Linked DNA regions of Homo sapiens. The protein of the gene in region 1 interacts with the protein of each later gene in a pairwise test. Each region holds a gene or a part of one and is shown on either strand. Other genes may lie near its edges.

Region 1 (6,510 bases):
ATCTCAAAGAACAGCAATGTAGATCCCCCTAGCAAACTAATTTGGGAATAATAATTAAGTTATGATCTATATCAAATGGTTTCACCTCCAAAGAGAATAAAACTTCTAATAGAAATACACTAAGTGAGGTGCCCAGAGCAAAATGCAGATGAGAGTTCTGCTTGGCTTGGTTTGCATCATCTCCTTTCAGATGTCTCTCTTTTCCCATCTGGTTTTTAAAGATACGAAGCTGAGGTGTCTCTACGCCAGCTGGTAGAGTCAGATGCCAATGGCCTCAAGCAGATCCTGAATGTGCTGACCCTGGGCAAGGCCGACCTAGAGGCACAAGTCCAGTCTCTGAAAGAGGAGCTCCTTTGCCTCAAGAACAACCACAAAGAGGTGAGACAAAGACCAATAGAGTAATCACAAGCTAAGTCCCTAAAAGTAGCATCAGTTCCTTTGAGTTGCACCTGACAAAGGGTGTGCCCGCTTGTATTAGTTCGTTCTCACACTGCTATAAAGAAATAACTGAGAGTAGGTAATTTATAAAGGACAGAAGTGTAACTGAGTCACAGTTCCACATGGCTGGGGAGGCCTCAGGAAACTTACAATCATGGCTTAAGGGGAAGCAGGCACATCTCACTTGGCAGCAGGAGACAGAGAGAGACCAAAGGGGGAAGAGCCCTTTATAAAACTATCAGATCTTGTGAGAACTCACTCACTATCCTAAGAACAGCATGGGGGACACCACCCCCATGATCCAATCTCCTCCCACTAGGTCCCTCCCTTGACACATGGGAATTATGGGAATTACAATTCGAGATGAGATTTGGGTGGGGACACAGAGCCAAACCACTGCTACGTACTACTCTGGTTTAGCCCTGAAAATACCTACTGCTACTAGCACTGGTTCAAGGTAGTATTTCAAATCCACTGGCTCCAACACAATATCTGGAGCCATAAGGGGAAGAAAGGCCTCCAACATCCCCTCCAGCTTTTCTACAAGAAGGAACCCAATTTTTCTGTCCTTACAGTCTTCCCATGTTTGTAGGCATCCCTATACAGGCTTCTGCCACCTCCCATTGGTACAAGTCAATATTGGTGCAAGTCAATATTGGCACAATCCCGTATTTGCACCATAGAGACTATAATCTCTCATGATCAATTCCACCTTTATCCTGTTTCACCCATTATCCAGCCCTGGAAATGATCTAAATTTTTTGGAACTCTGGTCTTGCTACTCATTTTTTTTTAATTTTGCACACATTTAAACACACAGTCCTACCTGAAAGAGTCTTAAATCATTTTATAGCATCTCAATAACACCTGTAAATCATGTATTCCTTTGTTGTGGGCTATATTTTAGACACAATTAAGCTAAATCGTAGCAGTTAGAGTGAAACAAGAACACAAAGGGGTTATCTGTTCACCAAGTGACTTCACAGTCTTTTTCTTTCCTTAGGAAATCAATTCTTTACAGTGTCAGCTTGGGGAGAGACTTGACATTGAAGTGACTGCTGCCCCTTCTGCTGACCTAAACCAGGTTCTACAAGAAATGAGATGTCAATATGAGCCCATCATGGAGACAAACCGCAAAGATGTGGAACAGTGGTTCAACACGCAGGTGGGGGATATAGAAAAGTCAAAAACAATAAGCTGATGCTGCATTTCTAGGGCCCTTTAATCAAAGTCATGTTTTCCTCCCATAATATTCTCAGTCTCTGGCTGTGTGTTTCAGATAGAGGAGCTGAATCAACAAGTGGTGACCAGCTCTCAACAGCAGCAATGCTGCCAAAAGGAGATCATAGAACTGAGACGCAGTGTGAACACTCTGGAGGTTGAACTGCAGGCCCAGCATCGAATGGTACTGAGCAAGCTGACCAAGCCTAGCTCAGCAAAGATGGAAACAGTCCCTTACACCTGTGTGCTGCAGTATTTCCCAAACTGTGTCTTTCAGAACAATAGTTCCTCATTTGTTAAAGCGTCTATGGCTGAAAAAGAGCTTTGTGGCCAAATAAGTCTACGAAACGCTGCACTAAACCAAGGTTAAACAGGGTGCCTTCCTGTGAGCCATTAATAAGCTAATATACACCATGAATCTCCAGGAAGGGGGTATATGGTATTCAGCATTCCAAAACTTATTTGACTGTGGATCCCCCCACTTTTTTTAGAACATCTCATGGTATTAATGATTCATGAAGTACACTTTGGGAAACACTGGGAGAGCATTTTATTATATGCAAAGCATTTTTACAAGCTATCACATGAGATTTATAAAGCAATCCTAAGAGGGGGGGTGGCATAATTATTAACGAATGTTACAGATGAGGCTCCAAGAGCTAAAGTGATTTTCCCAAGCAAATCCAAGGTAAGTTTCAGCCCACCTATTTTATAGAGACACTGAGATCCTGAGACATTAAGAAACTCATCCAAAGTCACAAAAGAAATAAGAGTCTGAGCCAGAGTTTAGATTCCAAAGCCAGTATCATTCTGTCTCATGATAATGCCTCTCTGAAGTAGAGAATTGCTTACATGCTCTGATGTGAAGGCTTTTGGGAAGACCTTGCCCCACACTGGTTTTGTCACCAGCTAGTCATGTGACCTTGGACAACATATTGAACCACTTGAACCTCAGTTTTCTCATCTATAAAAATTGGGATAATCATGCAAATAATAGGCTATTAAAACCTAAAATCCCATCATTATCCATAGACTTACAGAATGATAGAGCAGGAATGAAATTTACTCATCAGTTTCAACTTTCATATTTTACATATAAAGGAATTGATCTGGTGGATAAATTGTATATGGTAAAACATTGCTTCCTTCCTTTTTTAAGACACGAACACTCACTGAATGAAGTGCCATGGTAATGCTTTTTTTTTTTTTTCTTTTTGAGATGGAGTCTCACTCTGTCGCCCAGACTGGACAGCAGTGGCACGATCTCGGGTCACTGCAACCTCCACCTCCCGGGTTCAAGCAATTCTCTGCCTTAGCCTCCCAAGTAGCTGGGATTACAGGTGCCCACCAGAACACCCAGCTAATTTTTTGTATTTTTAGTAGAGACGGGGTTTCACCATCTTGGCCAGGCTGGTCTTGAACTCCTGACCTTGTGATCCACCCACCTGGGCCTCCCAAAGTGCTGGGATTATAGGCGTGAGCCACTGCGCCCAGCCAGTAATGCATTTTTAATGCCTGGGTGTGCATTAAGTTATTATTTTTTCTCTCCTAAGTAGGAAAGTGTGGTGCGAGACTATTGGTTGGTCAAGAAAGAGAAAGTGAAACAAATACTTACAGAGAAGCAAAAAGAGAAAGAGAGAAAGAGGGAAGAGATAAAGGAAAGCAGATTTTAGCATAGTTGATCATTTGGGTTTTGGATTTATTTGATTAGGAAACAATAAATAAAGTGCTTGGAGATCTATCAGTAGTGTCACAAAGAAACCATTTTTTTTAAATGATACAGGTCACAGGTGACCTGGGCTTAAAGGAGTCATTATAAATCCTACTATCCTTCTCCATGGTAGAGAGATTCCCAAGAGTGCATCCTAACGGAGACAGAGGCTCGCTACACGGCCTTGCTGACCCAGATCCAGAGTCTGATTGATAACCTGGAAGCTCAGCTGGCAGAGATCCGGTGTGCCCTGGAAAGACAGAACCAAGAATACGAGATCCTGCTGGACGTCAAGTCCCGGCTGGAATGTGAGATTACCACATACCGCAGCCTTCTGGAGAGCTCGGATGGCAAGTATGTAAAATAACAGCAACTTCTATGACAAAAAAGTGTAAATGAACGCAGATATATGTACTGCCACTGGCAACAGGGGTCAAGTGCTTTGTTTGACCTTCTTGCCAGTGATGGGGAGCTTGGACAGAGGCATCCACACACCCTCTCAAGCTGTGCCATGAGGAAGACTTGCAATTGTAACCTTATCCAAATTTGAGGCATTGGCTGACCTGAGCTGTTCTGAAGAGCCCATGGGCCAGGTTAATTTCTTATAGGTTGCTTACCTTCTTAGAGTTTTAAAAATTACTAGAGAAAAAATTATTTCCCCATAGATGAATATTCCTGGTGACCATTACAGATGTTTCCCCACTGAGATGAACGTCTGATTTTCATGAGCTTGTACAAAACAACCCAGGCTCCTTTGGAGGAACATTCTGCTCAGGCTGAAACCCCTAACCCTATCTAGCCACTAGTCCTTGAGGCCAACAGAAGCATGTACACATGTATGTTTTAGCATCTTTTTTAAAAAATAAAAGTTATAATTTTTGTAAGCAATAAGAAGCTAACCAACCCATAAGTAAACATATATGGAGGATGAGTTCTTTGAAGCAACTCAGTCCAAACTAAAACCCCAGAGACTTAGTTACAATTGCAAAGGAGACCTACTTCCCGAAAATAATCAGTGAACTCTTCACAGCATTCTTTTAATTGGCATGACCACATTATGTGAGCACAATGGTCATCAATGCTGTCACCTTTAGGAGCTGTGATCATATACCAAAATACCTCGAATCATCAAAGAAAGATTATGTTTATAAAAAGAGTGTTTACTATGAACTGCTTTTTACTTCAGTTCTCTAAAAACTATGCATAGACAGCCAGAAGGCACTTTGAAGCTTCCTGATGACACAGTGAGGACTCTTTCATAGCTGGGGTTCAGGCCACCACTATTAGTATGACTAACTCCTCAATGAGAAAAATATCTGGTTAATTTCCATTCCTCGGATAATAATGCCCTCAACTTGTTCCTTATCACTGTTGATCCTGTGGGTTTAGTTTCCATTATATCCATTCTGCAGATGAAAAACTAAAGGTTGAGTGCGTTAAATGACTTAGCTGAGGTCACCAGCTGGTAAAGGACAGAGCTGGTCTCTGCCTCAGTCTTTTGACTGCTAGTGCAGTATTCTTTCCACAATGTGATGGTATTGACTAATGGAAACTTACATAATCGAATACTTCTAAACCTAGGATGCTGATTTCCAATGGATTTAATCTGATTCTTTTTCTTCCAGTAACTACAGTACAAAATAAATGAATAAGCATTTAGAAGTATGTACTTGTCTTGAGCAACACGTGTTAAAAAAATTAGCCACAATCATTTTTCTCCATGACCATCATCGCCTTCCCTCAATCACAGCTAAAATTGTGTTTTTTTTCCTTAGGCGTCCCTGTTACCCACGTGCCACCAAATGTGAGCCTTCCCCTTGGACATCTTGTAAGTCCGGAGCCATAGAAAGCACGGCCCCAGCTTGCACATCCTCATCCCCCTGCAGCTTAAAGGAGCACTGCAGTGCCTGCGGACCCCTGTCCCGGATACTGGTTAAAATTTGCACCATCACCAAGGAGATTAAGGATGGGAAGGTCATTTCTTCTTACGAGCATGTGCAGCCTTGTTTCATCATCAGACCTGCCAAAGTCTAACATCCCAAGGTGATGAAAATGACCCACATTTATGAAACAGAGGCCAATACATGCTCCTGCCAGAGAGGTTTAAGAAAACTCCCCAGTCCCTTAAGGTACTTAGTTTCTTACTACTACAGCGGGTCCCCATTGCTAGGTAGAATATCTTTTATTCTGCTCCTTCCCTAACTCACCACTGCTAACATGATAATAAATTACATTTCTCTGGAAGGATGTTTTGCATTTATCTGAGGGATGGGAACTGATTTGTAAGCACCCAGGAAGATGGCCTACATTGCTTGACTACCCAGGTGATTGATGGGCAGGTCTCTCTCTTGTTTACTCAGGCCTTGTTTACCGACATTCCTCCTTAGAGCCAGTCAGACAAGTTTAGGGTTGTTTTTGGCCACCGGCACCTGAAGGTGAAAAGCTACAACCTTCCCTTCTAAATGTCTTTGGATACAGAAAGAAACATATATGGGAACAGTATAAATAGGGGAAAAGATCTTTAATATTTAATTCACTTGTGTAGATAGTCACGAGTATGGATCCTATTAAACTCTGCTGTCTTAATTATGATTTATCTATACTAACATACTTTACCTTTCCAAAGATATTTTTTTAAATGTCCATGGTCTCCAAAACTTTGTGACCTATTAGGCTCTCCAAATATTTTATTTGAGAATCAGATAAGTTGTGGGGAGTGAATCTAGAACACTTTGAAGAAATAGCATGGGTCTTTTCATTAAACATTTGCTATTTCTCTTTCTATTCTTTAGGGAATGGGAGTTTGTTCTGATTGTTTGACAAGGAACATTTAGCTGGAATTCTCAAGAAATAACCCTTCTTCCCCTCCCTGTGAAGAGTGACAAAGAAAAACATAGCTTAGATTCCTGCTTCAATCTATCCATCAGAGTAAATGGACATAATATCCACACATTTTGCAGAAAAGCAATAGTGAATAATTGCTGCTTGTAAGTGCAAGGCAGTCCCAATGTGAGAAGGCATCATTTATATACCAGCCATCATCACAGCTTCTTACAGGATAGTCTCAGAATATGTAAGTCATTCCTGACAATAATCATTGGACATTGCCAGAGGTTTTAAGAAATAATTCAAAATCAAAC
Region 2 (7,478 bases), on another chromosome or scaffold:
GTGGGCACCGTGCCAGTCACCACCTACACGGCCAAGGGGCTTCGGCCTGGAGAGGGCTACTTCGTGCGGGTGACAGCAGTTAATGAAGGAGGCCAGAGCCAGCCCAGTGCCCTGGACACATTAGTGCAAGCCATGCCTGTTACTGGTGAGTGCTGCCTCCTTCCCCGACCCCTGAGCCCTGCAGGCCTCTCCTAAGAGGGGGCCCCTGAGTAGCCGCAATGCACTTACTAAGCCAGGATCCCCACCCTCAGTTTCAGGAAGTAACATTTATTGAGCACCTACTAGGTGCTAGGTACTGGGCTAGGCAGTCCCTTCTTAGAAATGTTTTCTCATTACGACTCATAACTATACTACAATATTAATGTTTTTATTCCGAAGTTACAGAGAAGGAAACTGAGGTTCAAGGTACTTTGCCCTAGTTGTCACTAATGGTATGTGGTACAGCCAGGATTTAAACCTGGAGACTCCAAAGTTGATGTTCTGTAGGAGAGAGAGTGGCTGCTTCCCGGGCATGGCCTTCGAAGGCCTAAGGGCCGCTCAGCTCCCATGGTTCACGTTCAGAATGGGACATGCCCAGCTCCCCGTTATTATTGAAAAGAGGATTGTCTTTCCCTTTGGGCTTTAACCACCACAAGCACCTGATCTGCCTTTGACCCAAGCTGACACTGGGCCACCCCAGCTGACCCTAGTCATCACTATGGCAGTAGGGAGTCACAAACACAGCACACGGAGTCCAAAGTCCCAGAATCTTGTCCTGGCTCTCTCCCGAACAAGGTGTGACCTCAGGCAAGTCATTTCCTGTCTTAGATTGGTGTTTATCTCATCTGCAAAACATAAGCGCTCTGCCACATGTCTGCATCTTCCTCTGTTCCAGCCTAGTCCACCCCTCTCCCTGCAGGGTTCCTTTCTCAGCTCCTGTCCCTCCCCCGCTAGCATCTCCCCATCAGCCCCTGGGGTCTCCCCTGAAGATTCTGCTCCCAGCTGTACTCCAGTCCTTTAGAGGCCCCAGTATGTTGGGATCTCAGCATCAATCCGACTGGCCCAGTCTTCCCCTCCAGCCCTACCTTGCTGGGGACCTGGGGCTGGGGTCCAACTGTGAGGGAGGAGGGAGGTAACCAGTCCTCTTGTGCGTTTCAGTCTGTCCCAAGTTCCTCGTGGACTCCAGCACCAAGGACTTGCTGACAGTCAAGGTCGGGGACACAGTTCGTGTGCCCGTCTCCTTTGAAGTGAGTGTACCTGCAGGGGTGTGGGGAGGGAAGCCCAGAGAGGCCAAGGGGGCCAGACTCAGCCCTGTGGCTCTCTTTTCTTCCCTGTTCCTTTTTGGCCCCTAGTCAGTGCTTGTGGAAATCACTGACTGGGCTTGTGGAAATCAGGTGAGAGACATGAGGCAGGAAGGATTCAGGTCCTCCTTGAAGGTACTGCCCTCACTTGGCGGCTGGGTGGCCATTCTGCTCCAGGCCTGCAAATCCCTCTAGTGGTAGCTTCAGCTACTGCACCTCCAAACTAAGGCTCTTCGGTTCTCCACCTCTCCTAGTCTGGGAATTCAGGGAGCCGGTCGTGCAGATGATCCCCTTTGACTTCACAATGTATTTTTGTGCAAGCACATGACCTATATTTGACTCAGGGTGATCCTTAACCAACACCAACACCACCTGACTTTACAACAGTAGGGTGGTGGCTAAAAGTACAAACTGCCTGGGTTCAAATTTTGATGTCATCACTCACAGCCGTTTGACTTTGGACAAATATTATTTATTTATTTATTTATTTATTTATTTATTTATTTTGAGATGGAGTCTCACTCTGTCACCCAGGCTGGAGTGCAGTGGCACGATCTCGGCTTACTGCAACCTCCACCTCCCGGGTTCTAGCGATTCTCCTGCTTTAGCCTCCCAAGTAGCTGGGATTACAGGCGCATGCCATCACGCCCGGCTAATTTTTGTATTTTTAGTAGAGATGGGGTTTCGCCGTGTTGGCCAGGCTGGCCTCTCAAACTCCTGACCTCACGTAGTCTGCCCACCTCGGCCTCCCAAAGTGCTGGGATTACAAGTGTGAGCCACTGTGCCCAGCCAGAACAAATATCTTAACATCTCTGTGTTTCACCTTCCTCATCTGTCAAAAGGGGATAATAATAGTAACCTACCTCAAAGGTCTGAGGGTTCAAGGAATTAATATATTGAAAGTGTATATGTAGGGCCTGGCATATGACAGCACCCAATATGTTTTAATATTATTATTGTTTAAAATCATCATCATCTGTGTAGGAATTCAAACCAGTCTATCTTACTCTAAATGACTTGTTCTTAACCACAATAATGACAATGATAATGATGGCAAAAATATTTAATGCACATTGAGTAGTTACCATGTCCTAGGCCTTGTTCTCTCTGCTTTCCGTGTATTTATTATTAACGCCTTAAATTCTCAGAACAATCCTGTGAGGTCAGTTAGTGACTATCAGCATCTTCGTTTGACTCTGGTGCCCACCGTGCCCTGTACTGAGGGCCCCGTAGGGAGTTGACGGCATGGTCACCAAGCAGCTGGGCTGGCCTTCCCACCCTGCTCAGGGTCACCACAGTTCAAGGCCAGGACACCGCAATCTTCCTCCTAGACTATTGCCAAATTATCTCCTACATGGTCTTGGCTGCCAGGGTGGTTAACACTCCCCTCCCCACACATCCCTTCTCATTCCCATCCCACCCCCTGCCATGTGAATCCAGAACTCATTATGCTTTCCTGCTCAGAATCTGACAACAGCGGCTCCTGGCTGAGAGGATAATGTCCAGATGTCTGTAGAGGTGTGACGTGGAGGGCACTTTGCATTTTTGCCGAACCTCTTCGTCCAACTTCCTTTCTTGTTCTACCGCCCCCCTACCATACCCGCCTGCCAACCTCACACTTTATCACCACCCCTCTTTCCCACCTGTGTTTTCTTGTCGACGTTGTGTTTTCTGGTCGACTTTCTCCTTGTAGAAGACTCTTCTCACCGCTTCTACCTTTGGCCTAGCTTAAATGCCATCACCTCCATGAAACTGCCAGCTTCCCCTTCTCAACTTTTCCTTCCTCTCCTTTCTCAGGCCATGCCCATGCCTGAGGTGACCTGGCTGAAGGATGGCTTGCCCTTGCCCAAAAGAAGTGTGACTGTCACTAAGGATGGCCTCACCCAGCTTCTGATCCCTGTGGCTGGACTCTCAGACAGTGGTCTCTACACTGTGGTGCTGAGGACCCTGCAGGGGAAGGAGGTTGCCCACAGCTTCCGTATCAGGGTGGCAGGTGAGGCAGGCCTTGCTCTGGGCTCTGGACGCTGGCTCGGCCACTCACCAAGGCAAAGAGGTGTCCACTGGTCTGATCATAGGTCTCAGCCACTCTACCAGGGCTGGGTATGCAAAGTGACCATTCTCCACCTTTCCTCCATGCTTGATGATAGAAAGTAGAAAGGACCCCAGAAGATCCCCTGGGGACTTCCATTGTCCTTCTGCCTCAGGAGCCTAGAGACAGTCATGTCATGTCTCCTCTCCGACCTCAGTTATCCTTCCCGTTGAGTCAGTGAGCAGAGGCGGTTACCACTGTTACATCACTCCAAAGACCCAGGGGACAAAATTGTCTGCAGCCGTTGCACAGGATAAAGGCTTTCCTCCCCAGCTGTGGCTCCACACAGCCCCTGCCCTGGAGGAGCTTCTGGATATCCAGAAATGATCAAATAGACTAACAGTGGGGGCTCTGTAATGCAGCTTCATGAGAGCCCTGCCTCTGTCCAAAAATGCATGCCTTGTCCTGTGTCATTTTACTTAAAAACTGAAGTGAATTCAGTGAAACCCCATCTCTGCGAAAAATACAAAAAATTAGCCGAGCGTGGTGGTGGCCGCCTGTAGTCCCAGCTACTTGGGAGGCTGAGGCAGGAGAATGGCGTGAACCCGGGAGTTGGAGCTTGCAGTGAGCCGAGATCGTGCCACTGCACTCCAGCCTGGGTGACAGAGCCAGACTCCGTCTCAAAAAACAAACAAACAAACACACTGAAGTGAATTAAAATTACTCTTTTGGGGAGATTTTCTACCCTCTAGAGATAACTGTGGACCGCTGGCCAAGCTTACTCTGGGTCCAGCTACTTGTGTGGCAAGACTGCGTTCCCCAGGACCCTCAGAAGTCCTGGGACCTGGAGGGGGCTGGTAGCAGCCCTGCTGGGTCCCCTCCACGTGACCTCCCTCTGCCGTCTCTCCTGAAGCATGCCCGCAGGCCCCTGGGCCCATCCACCTGCAGGAGAACGTGCCTGGGACGGTGACGGCCGAGTGGGAACCCTCTCCTGACGAGGCCCAGGATGTCCCGCTGCACTACGCGGTGTTCACACGCTCCTCAGCGCACGGTCCCTGGCACGAGGCAGCCGACCGCATCCACACCAACCGCTTCACCCTCCTGGGCATCCTCCCCGGCCACGAATACCACTTCAGGGTGGTGGCCAAGAATGAGCTGGGGGCCAGCAAACCCTCGGACACCAGCCAGCCCTGGTGCATCCCCCGGCAGCGCGGTAAGCAGCCCCTGAGAGGGAGGAGCAGGCAGGGTGGGGGTTGCGCTCTGCAATGCAGTGGGATGCACCCAAGCATGGCAAGCGCGCAGGATAGGGACTGTGGCAGGGATGGCCTGGAGCATGCCAAATAACAGCCAGCAGCCCCGAGCTGCTGCTCCTCCCGCTCCTGCCTCACACCCACCTGTTCTGGCATCCTCTGCACCCCGACCTCCGTGGGAAGAATGAGATTGGTGTGGGTGTTTTGGTGTCTGAGGTGCCTTTGGGAGGATTTTCAAAAGCAGCCACAGACAATAAGGCAAATAGAGGTTAATGTTTCTCTGAAAACAAAGTGTATATTTTACCGCAAAGTAGATGTGGACCTTAAGATCAGTCACAGAAAAGCAGGCTATAAAATCAAATCAAGGTTTCATTTTCATAAAATACAAAAATTTCAGGAAAGCTCTACACCAGAATGTCAGCTATAGTCATCTATAGGTAGTGAGATTATGATTTGGTTTTTATTCTTTCTCCTTTGATTCTCTGTGTATTCTAATTGTCCACAGTGAATGTGTATTAGCTACAAAAAAAAATCCATAAAGAATTTTAGGAAAAGGATAGAATGAGGCAAGCCTTGGGGTCCAAATTTGCAGGCAAGATGTGGCAGGAAATCCCAGATAAGGCCTACATGGTAGCTTCATGAACTCTTTACCCAGACCCGGGTCTCAGCCAGGCCTTCCTCGCTTTCTCACCCTCTTCTCTCACCCCGGCTTTCACCACAGACAGGTTCACAGTGAAGGCTCCGTGCTACCGGGAGCCCGACCTGAGCCAGAAGCCCCGGTTCCTGGTGGGCCTGCGGTCCCACCTGCTGCCCCAGGGCTGCGAGTGCTGCATGAGCTGTGCCGTGCAGGGCTCGCCCCGGCCCCACGTCACCTGGTTCAAGAATGACCGCAGCCTGGAAGGAAACCCCGCGGTGTACAGCACTGACCTGCTGGGCGTGTGCTCCCTCACCATCCCCAGCGTATCCCCGAAGGACAGCGGGGAGTACAAGGCTGTGGCTGAGAACACGCTGGGCCAGGCAGTCAGCACTGCCACCCTCATTGTCATAGGTAATGGTGGCTGCCCTGGCAGTGGGGCAGGAAGGAGAGCCAGGAGAGCAACCACCTGCCTGTCAGGGAGGCTCCGGGGGGTGCCTAGAGGGATTCAGCCGGGAGTCAGGAGACCAGGACTCTCTGCCTGACTCTATGAACTTTCAGCTATTTAACCTACCAACACCGGCCCACATGTGGTCTTTATTTGCCCACTTTTTAAAAAATTTATTTTTATTTTTAGTTTTTTTTTTTTTGAGACGGAGTTTCGCTCTTGTTGCCCAGGTTGGAGTGCAATGGCATGATCTCGGCTCACTGCAGCCTCCACCTCCTGGATTCAAGAGATTCTCCTGCCTCAGCCTCCTGAATAGCTGGGATTACAGGCATCCGCCACCACACCTGGCGGATTTTTTTGTATTTTTAATAGAAGGGGGGTTTCATCATATTGGCCAGACTGGTCTCAAACTCCTGACCTCAGGTGATCCACCCGCCTCGGCCTCCCAAAGAGCTAGGATTACAGGTGTGAGCCACTGTGCCCGGCAGATTTGCCCACTTTTAAAATGAGGTATTTGAACTTGGTGAGCAACTCTTGATTGAAGGGCTGTGTACTGCTCACCTAAGCTTCCCAGTGGGGCCACGCTACACATTGCAGGCTGAGAGATGAACAGGCATCCGTATTGCTGTTTCTTAAGTATGTCAAGATATGAACACTTAGTGCCTAGAAAGCCATGCTGATTCTCTCATTGGTAGTCTCCTTTTCAGTAGCACAGATATATATGTTAATAAAGGTTTTTCCTTCGATAGTACTTAAAACACCTTATATTTTGAATAGCAATAAAAGGCAAGCCTCAATTGACCTTTGTGGAAAAACGGCCCCTTTGCACTGGAGCAGAGCATCTCTCCTCTCTGTAGCACCTGTGCTTAGGCATTTAGGAAGCCACTCTCGAAACACCCCAGCTTGTGTACACATGTAGTCCCGGAACGAAGATGGCATTGGGGGTGATTATGGTTCCCCGAGGGGCCAGCAAAGGGCTTTGCCCAAGCTTAGAGAGCACGTGGTGGCTCCAGATTTGAACCCACACCCCCTGATGGCAGAGCCTGTAGTCTAAGCCCCATTCTGAGTTTTCTTCACCACTGAACAGATGCAGGGTGGGGTGGCTGCCCCTCTGAACCAACTGGAATATCCTGTGTCTTGCAGAACCCAGCACCTAGCCTCACCTCACCCTGGGATGGTCCTGGACCCTTGAAGCTTCACTTCCGACACCTGCACTGGCCCGGGAAGCCAATCCCAAGGATGGAGGCTGTGCCCAGAGCCCCAGGAAAATGGGAGTGAGAAGATGCCTGGCGAGGTTTTGGCCAGGAGGACGTGAAGTCCTTGGGGAAGAAAAACAAGGGAGGAGGGCATTCCACCTCCTGGCTCCAAGCTAAGTCACTCAACAGAATGACAGCGAACCTCCTGGACCCTCACCATATGGGTTTCTTTCTTCTTCGCTTCAGGAGATCCAGAGGGCACCTGCCTGCAGGATGGGCCGGCTCCTTATTTTCCTGGGCTGAGCCGTTTGGAGGGAGGGTGGGCACAGCTGGGCCTGCTGTGACCACTGGGAGGGAAGAGGAGAGGAGGTCAGAGGACCTGGGTGAGGACTAGGGCATCAAGGTCGTGTGTGTGGGTGGGGGCAGCCTCCACCTCCTGGATTCAAGAGATTCCAGGGGTGCAGCAAGTGCTTTCTATGCGTTTCTTCATTAAAACATTAGGCTAATACAGGCAGATCATTGGCAAATTTACTTGGGGTGGGTGTGTTGGAGGAAAGATTTCCAAAGCGGAGCCTTTATTCCAGGCTTCAGTTGGGAGGATGGGTGGGTTCTGGATAGAGGAAGAACGGGCTCAGAACTGG
Region 3 (7,478 bases), on another chromosome or scaffold:
CTGGTGTCCTGGAGCCCTGGAAGGAGGCTCAGCCTGGAGGGCCTGCACCAGCTGGGCCCTCTGCACGATGCCTACCAGGATCTGGGACTCTGGCAAGTAGAGAGGGAGAGGGAGGGAGGTGCATTATGAAGAAACAGGCCTGAGGGCCAAGCTTCCGGAAGACCTTGGTGGTGTCCCCATGCTCCTACCCCAGCAGCTGCCCAGGGACTGCCTTACAAGCACCCAGCCGACTCTCTTTAGACATGTCAACCACCCCAAGGGAGGGTAGCCATGATTTCCATTTTGCTGATGAGGAAACTGAGGCTCAGGTGAAGTGACTTGCTCAAGGTCACACGGTTGGTTGCTAAGTCACAGAGCCTGGATGCAGATCCTGTCTGCCTGACAGGTTCAAGAAGGAGGCAGAGGGCATCCCCTACCCCCGACTTCCTCCTCCCTTCCAGCTGGGCACCTGTGCTCTCCACCAGGGGATACTCGGTCACGTCTGTGGAGGTCACAACCTTGACCACCTCCTCCAGCGGCGTGTCCTTGGCCAGTGTGGTGATGCTGTGGTTCATGAAGTGCTCCACCCTCACATGGTGGGAGCTGCAGGCAGAGGGGCTCCCATCAGGTCCCGGAGTCGGGGATGTCAGACCCAGGCCAGCAAGGGGATCTGAGGGGAGCTTTGCTTGAACCAGGGACCCACGGCTCTGGAGTGTGAGCAGGGCTGGAGAGGTTCCTGGAATGAGGGACTCCTAGAACCCACAGTGGGAGGAAACCTGGGGACCACATTACTGATGGCCCAGTTCCAAATCCCCAACCCCCTGGTCCCCCATGTCCCCCAGACCAGCTTCACTTGGGTCTTGTCCCACCTTGGACAGAGCTGAGTGTGAGATGACGGAAAACCAGTATCTGCCAGGTGGTCAGTGACTGGCCATCCATTAATGAATAATGAGATTGGAGTACAGACCCAGCAGCCTTCCCTGGATAATTCCATTTGATTATAAAAGTGTATGTCACCCCCAAGGAAAAACTTGGAAGGTTGAAAATCACTGGTATAAACAGCCCCATTTTCCCGATGGGGAAACAGGTTCAGAGCAAGGCAGCAGCTTGTTTGTGTTTGGAGCGGGGCCTCCGATTCGGACTCTCAGAGCCTCTTTGGTCTGCTTTTCTGGCGCCAGAAGCTGCTCTGGTCCTATCTGGTTGAGTGAGGACTTCAAAGCCCATTTCCATTCTCGTTCCACCTCCTGCTCCCAAAGTCCCAGCAAGGACAGCAGGAGTGGGGAGAGGGGAGGAGACCTCTCGGATCTGGTGCTGACTCTCTGTGTCACCTGGAGCAAGACACGGCACCTCTCTGAGCTCTGGTTTCCTCAATCTGTACACGGGGCAATACTCATCCTCCTGCTGTGAAGCCCAGCTGACCCCTAGACAGACACTGAGGCCTCAAGGCCAAGGACTTGCCCAAGGTCACCCAGGGCACTGGGGAGAGTGGAGATGAGAGCACAGCTGTGTGTCAGCCCCTCCCAGCCCCCATGTCGGAGGTCAGCTGCGGTGGTGTTTCTTTTTGGAGGTGCCCTCCACCCCCAGCCAAGCCCAAACACTGTGACCCCCTTCAGTCAGCCTGAGGTGGGCACCACTCACCCGATGTTGCGGCCCAGAATCCGTGGCAGGTATGGCAGCTTCTTGACAATGATGGTGCCATCATAGAAGGAGGGCTGGCAGCTCTGTGCAATGGCGTTGGCTGCCAGCACCGCCATCAGCACGGGCAGTGCATGCACTATCTGGCCGGTCAGCTCAAAGGCCAGCAGCGCCGTGGAGATGGTGTGGGTCACAGCCCCTGAGAAGGCTGCAGCCCCTGCCGGGGCAGAGCCACACAGGTCGGCTCAGGCCAGGAGGCAGGGGCCAGCCTGATGTGAGGGAATAACTAGCCTGGCTGCTGCCGGGGGCTAGGGTGGGAATTGTAAGAGGCCACAGCCTGGGCACTGTGGGAAGTGCCCCAAGGCCTGGGCTTGGTGAGAGGAGAGGGATAAGGGAGGCCGCAGGGCTGGGGACAGGAGCCACGAGGAAGTGATGGGCCCCGGGGAATGGTGGGGCTCAGGAGGGACAGACCCCCATGAGGGGTAGGGGGTTCACTGGAGGACTCAGTGACTGCTCCGTGCCCTGGGGAACCACCAGCCAATTCTCCAGGTCCAGCCCAGCCCCACGACATTGCCCACCCAGCAGGGCCGTGACCCACTCACCTGCCAGAGCATACCCCCCGGGCATGATGGGATTGGTAACCCCTCCAGTCACAATGCCCTCAGGGAAGGCGACGGCAAGAGCCTCTCCCAAGAGGCGCCCGATGGCAGCTCCTGGCCACAGACTTAGGGTGAGGGGGAGCCAGGCTGACCCGGCCCCCACAGCCCTCCATCCCTGAGGACCATCCTTAGTACCACCCGGGAAGAGGGTGAACCAGGATGCATGGCCCTGCCCCAAGAACCCCAAAACTCTCAGAACCTCAGGACCCCAGACTCACCAAGGATAAAGATGGGCATGAAGTACCCGGCAGGCATGGGGATGGTGGTGGCCAGAATCAGCATCCAGAACTGCAGGAAGGGGGAGCCCAGGGCAGAGGTTAGAGGCCGCTGGGCAAGGTGTGGACAAGAGAAGACAGGACAGGGGACAGGGGAGTGTCCTAGATAGAAAGAGGGTGCCAGCCATGCACCCACTGCCAGAGTCTGGCATTAGGGGAGGGTCCTCACCCTGAGAAATGCCCACTGTATGCCTGGCACTGTGCCAGGTACATTCCTTTCTTCCTTCTCTGCCTTCCCAGTAACCACCCCATTTTAAAGATGGGAAGACTGAGGTCCAGAGACCTGAAGCCACTTATCCAGGACCATGCAGTGGGCAGGGGGCACAGAAGGAAGTGTGGGTGAGAGGCCTGGGCTCCATGCCACCAGGTGCAGGGAGGCACCCCCGCCCCTCCCCACCAGAGCTGGTCCTGGCTCTGTGCACACCTGGGGGTCAGGGGGCCCACCTTCATAACCAGGAAGAAGGCAAGGGTCCCAAAGATGGTGAACCGCGGGTGGTACCATTCCCACCAAAGGTGCTGGGGGTCGAGCTCCTCGGGCCAGGGTGGGCTGGAGTTCTGGGTCATCAGCGCCCAGGAGTGGTTGTCGAACAGCGAGTCCAGATGCTGCTTCATGGACAGCTGTGGCGGGGCAGGTGGGAACTGGACATGAGGGGCCCCCCCCAGCGGCAGACCCCAGCCTCCCCCGCACCGCCTGACCCCGCCTGGAATCCTCCCCTGCCACTTCCCAGCGGGGGGCCTTGGGCAGGGCTCTGACCTCCCAGAGCCATGGTCTCCTTATCTGCAGAATGATGCCCAGGTGTCACCCTGGTGGGGTGCTGAGGGTATTACGTGAGACACATGCAAAGGGGAAAACAAATGGGGGTTCCCACTCCTGCCACCCCCGCTCAGGACCCCTTACCCGAGAAGCTAGGAAGTGGCCCACACCAGGCGGGTAGGTGATGGAGGCGAGAAGCAAGGTGGCCAGAGCGGAGTACACAGGCTTGCTGTGGGGGGTGGGTGAGCTCTAGGGCTGGCCCTCCCTTTCCTACATCCCGAGGAGAGGGAAGTAGGACCTGGTCCAGGCAGCAGCAGAGCTCCCCACCTGGGGGCTGATACCGAGGCAAGGACTGGTGAGGAGGAAGGGCGGGAGCAGGGAACATGGCCCCCTCCAGCGGGTAGAACCCGTGGGGTGAGCCCCTCAACTGGGTATGACTGAGGGCAGAGGAATCACGCAGGAGATTGAGAGGAGAATTGGGGCAGAGGCAGGCTAGGAGGGAGGAGACAGTGGGCCGGGCCGGGGCGGGCCATGTGCATCTCCGGGGCAGGAGGGCTGGCCAATGCCAAGGCCAACGCCAGGGGCCACACAAGGTTTGAAGGGGCACAGGGTTTGAGGCTCAGTGAGGGGGTGGGGTTTCGCTGAGAGATTGTAGAATGAAGGAGGGATGGGGGTTCAATGTGGGGTTCGTAGCCCAGTAAGGAAGGGGGGACAGTGACTGTGGGGACTTGGAGAGGGTTGTTAGATGCTCCACGGGCTAGGGAGGGATTTAGGGGCTCAGTGGGAGGATGGGGGTGGGGCTTTCTACATAAGGTCTGGAGTCCACAAGGGACTCACTGAGATGTCCCCAGCCCCTAGCCCAGAGCCTACCTAGTAGCCAGCAGTTTGGAGCTGTACCGATTGGTCTTGATGAAGCTGAGGAAGGTTCGCTGACAGAAGAGGTAAGCACAGCTCAGGACGCCGCAGATGCCACTGCGGGGTGAAGGGAGGTAAGACCAGAGCCTGACCCCAGTACCAGGGGCCGCAGTCCAGGCCTTGGGGGGAATGCCTTTTGGACTCTCAGGGGCCCAAGGCACCCACTCACCCCAGCGCCACAAAAAAGAAGATCTCAGGCAGGTCGAAGGGAACGTCCACCCGGAAACTGGTCTTGTAGAGGGAGGTGATGGTCTCTGGGGAAGGAGGGCAGTGGGGAGCCAAGATGGCGCTCCCACCCGACCCAAACTCAAGTCCCAGACTAACAGCCCAGGGTGGAGGGGGTGCCAGGTCCTGACTCGGAATCTGTGTCCTGGCATTCCAGGCCCCCACAACCAGGCTCTTGCCTCCCTGCCCAGCCTCATCCCTTCTACCCTCAGGGCCCCTTGCCCCTCAACACAGGTCAGGGGCTCAACACAGGTCAGCCCCTTCCATCCTCCCTGAAGGAGGTGGGAACACGGAGGAGGGAAAAGAGGGAGAGAGAGGGAAGGGAAGAGCAAGAGATGTACACAGAGGAGAAGGGAGGTCTCCCTCGCCCCGGCCCCCAGGCAGGGCCAGGGTCAGGCAGCCCAGGGGGCTCACCCTGCTCGCTGTTGAAGACTGCCAGGAGCCGGAATATGAAGGCCCCGCAGGTGGCCGCAAAGAAGCCCCTCCAGTAATCCCGGACAGAGAAGTGGGAAGACATGACCTCGATGCTGAACAGGACGCCTGGGGGCGACACTGATGTCAGGTGGGCCCCCACCCCCACCCACCTGTGGCTGTAGGGCCCCCTCCCCCATCTCGCCTCCTCCCTGAGCCATCTGTCCTGCTGTCCTACAGCCCGGACAGGGACAGACAGAAGGGGAGGGCAGGGCTTGCGCCCTGGGCGGGGAGGACCCCGCTGCCCAGGGATCCATCCAGCCTGGAATGCAGGTGTGCGCCCTCTCCCTATCGGGTGGGAACGGTTTGATCCCCATTTTACAGAGGAGGAAGCTGCGCTCAGAGAGGCCAAGGGGCCAGTGGATTTCAAACCCAAGTCTGTGTAATGTTATCCTGAAGCCTCTCAGCACCGCCCAACCACGCCCCCAACCACCCGCCCCGCCCCGCCGCCCCCGGGGGGTGGCTATACCCAAAGCGGGGCTGAAGTGAGAACAAGAATGAGCCCCATCCCCTCCTCCAGGCTCTCAGCTGGGCCGAGGGAGCCCAGGGTGTGAGGGGAGGAGCTTGAGGGACCCAGGGGGCGGGGCATGAGGGGGGTCTCACCGCTGAAGGGAGCTGCAAAGACTGTGGCCACGCCCACTGCCGCCGCTGCCACCAGCATTTCGTTTTGCTTGCTCTTGTTCTGGGGGATCCGAGTCCAGGGCTCAGAGTCAGCCCCCTCCCTCCCCACTCCCATTTCTCCAAGGAAGCCCCCGAGTCCCTAACCTCAGGCTCCCCGATGGTCGTGGTGCGCACACGGCCCAGGTAGGCAGCGATCATTACAGACAGGTGCACGAAAGGGCCCTGCAGAGGGAAGGGTGGGCCCAGGTGAGGGCAGCAGAGACAGTCTCACCCCGAGGCAGCACGGCTTCCCCACCACACCCCCTCCTCCATCTCCCCAACCCCCAGGGCTGTCCTCAGGTAGCTTTTGTCACACTGGGGACCTGGCCTGGCTCTTCCCCTAAGACTGAGCTCCCTGAAGGCAGGCACTGGCCTGAGTCTGCTCTGACCCAGCTTTGGTGGGGTATGGGGGAGAGCTGGGGCAGGGTAGGGTGGGCGGGGTGGCTGGGGTGCCCTCACACCTGACCATACCACTTTGCCCAGGAACAGGGTGCTGCCGGTGGCCAGGGTGCAGGAGAGGCCCACCACCTTGGCCCCAAAGTTCTTGATATCCAGGTAGTCCTCCAAGATCACACCCGCCAACATGGTCTTCAGCTCCGGGATTCCAGAACCTTAGCCAGACAGGACAGGAACAAGCAGGGGACAATCTCTAGATTAAAACTCTCTGCCAGGCGCAGTGGCTCACGCCTGTAATCCCAGCACTTTGGGAGGCCGAGGCAGGCGGATCGCGAGGTCAGGAGTTCGAGACCAGCCTTGCCAACATGGTGAAACCCCATCTCTACTAAAGATACAAAAAATTAGCCGGGCATGGTGGCGGGTGCCTGCAGTCCCAGCTACTTGGGAGGCTGAGGCAGGAGAATTGCTTGAACCTGGGAGGCAGAGGTTGCAGTGAGCCAAGATTGTGCCATTGCACTCCACCTTGGGCAACAAGAGTGAAACTCCATCTCAAAAACAAACGAACAAACAAACAAAAAAAACTCTCATAACTCTACCCGCACGGTGTTTTCACATTATGATTTTTTTTTTTCCTTTGAGACAGGGTATCACCCTATTGTCCAGGCTGGAATGCAGTGGTTCGATCTCGGCTCATTATAACCCCGACTTCCTCAGGCTCAAAAGTGATCCTCCCACCTCAGCCTTCCAAGTAGCTGGGACTACAGGCAGGCACCACCACACCTGGCTAACTTTTTGTTGTGGTGGTTGTTTTTTATTTTTTGTAGAGATGGGGTTTCACCATGTTGTCCAAGCTGCTCTTGAACACCTGGGATCAAGTGATCCACCCACCTCCCAAAGTGCTGGGATTATAGACTGAGTCACTGCACCTAGTCCTATTATGATCACGCAGAACCCTCAGAGGTTAGGATGCATAAACTCATTTTGCAGATTTGGATGCTAGAGTCAGAGAGGAATGCGAGTTGTCCACGTTCCTCCCACTGGGACTGGCAGATGGCTGTGTCAGGATGGGGGAGCTCTGAACAGAACCTCAGGCCACCACTGAGTGAGCCTGGAGCTCCCCTCTGCTGGCCTGGAGCTGGAGGAAGGGCTGAGTGGCCTGAGGGAGCGGCACCTCCTCCATGGGCCCCTTCCTGGCACCAGCACAGGCCCCACAGGGCAATCTCCTTCCAAGGAGCCCTTGGAAAGCGAGTAGGGCCAGCAGTGACCCAAGAGTCAAGATCTGGCCTTCTTGCTGTGTGCCTTCAGGCAAGCCACATAACTCTTCTGGGCTTGAGAAATGAGGCTGCAGCTTCCCGATTCCCCCCATCAGAAGCCCCCTGGGATCTGAGAAGGTTTTGGCACTGGGGACTGGCATGGCGACCGTGGACTCACCTCCAGAGGAGGGCGTGATGCTCTGGGAGAAGCCTGAGGAGAAAGAGACGAGGGCCACAGGGTACACAGTCCAGGAAA

What was found.
Region 2: the proteins of KRT39 (region 1) and IGFN1 interact in binary tests that used the Homo sapiens proteins (3 or more experiments, as listed by UniProt).
Region 3: the proteins of KRT39 (region 1) and CLCNKA interact in binary tests that used the Homo sapiens proteins (3 or more experiments, as listed by UniProt).

What each region holds. Positions count from the first base shown.
Region 1 is NC_000017.11:40,957,495-40,964,004, reverse strand, and holds the end of KRT39 (keratin, type I cytoskeletal 39), read left to right. Parts: intron 1-221; coding exon 222-378; intron 379-1,441; coding exon 1,442-1,603; intron 1,604-1,717; coding exon 1,718-1,843; intron 1,844-3,503; coding exon 3,504-3,724; intron 3,725-5,145; coding exon 5,146-5,404; 3' UTR 5,405-5,588; downstream 5,589-6,510. UniProt on the Homo sapiens protein: May play a role in late hair differentiation.
Region 2 is NC_000001.11:201,221,602-201,229,079, forward strand, and holds the end of IGFN1 (immunoglobulin-like and fibronectin type III domain-containing protein 1), read left to right. Parts: coding exon 1-145; intron 146-1,137; coding exon 1,138-1,226; intron 1,227-3,077; coding exon 3,078-3,273; intron 3,274-4,222; coding exon 4,223-4,522; intron 4,523-5,280; coding exon 5,281-5,607; intron 5,608-6,784; coding exon 6,785-6,798; 3' UTR 6,799-7,351; downstream 7,352-7,478.
Region 3 is NC_000001.11:16,024,814-16,032,291, reverse strand, and holds part of CLCNKA (chloride channel protein ClC-Ka), read right to left. Parts: coding exon 7,401-7,478; intron 6,185-7,400; coding exon 6,045-6,184; intron 5,757-6,044; coding exon 5,679-5,756; intron 5,596-5,678; coding exon 5,517-5,595; intron 4,983-5,516; coding exon 4,857-4,982; intron 4,472-4,856; coding exon 4,387-4,471; intron 4,275-4,386; coding exon 4,173-4,274; intron 3,532-4,172; coding exon 3,447-3,531; intron 3,167-3,446; coding exon 2,993-3,166; intron 2,562-2,992; coding exon 2,492-2,561; intron 2,328-2,491; coding exon 2,217-2,327; intron 1,832-2,216; coding exon 1,618-1,831; intron 583-1,617; coding exon 449-582; intron 90-448; coding exon 1-89. UniProt on the Homo sapiens protein: Anion-selective channel permeable to small monovalent anions with ion selectivity for chloride > bromide > nitrate > iodide. Forms a homodimeric channel where each subunit has its own ion conduction pathway.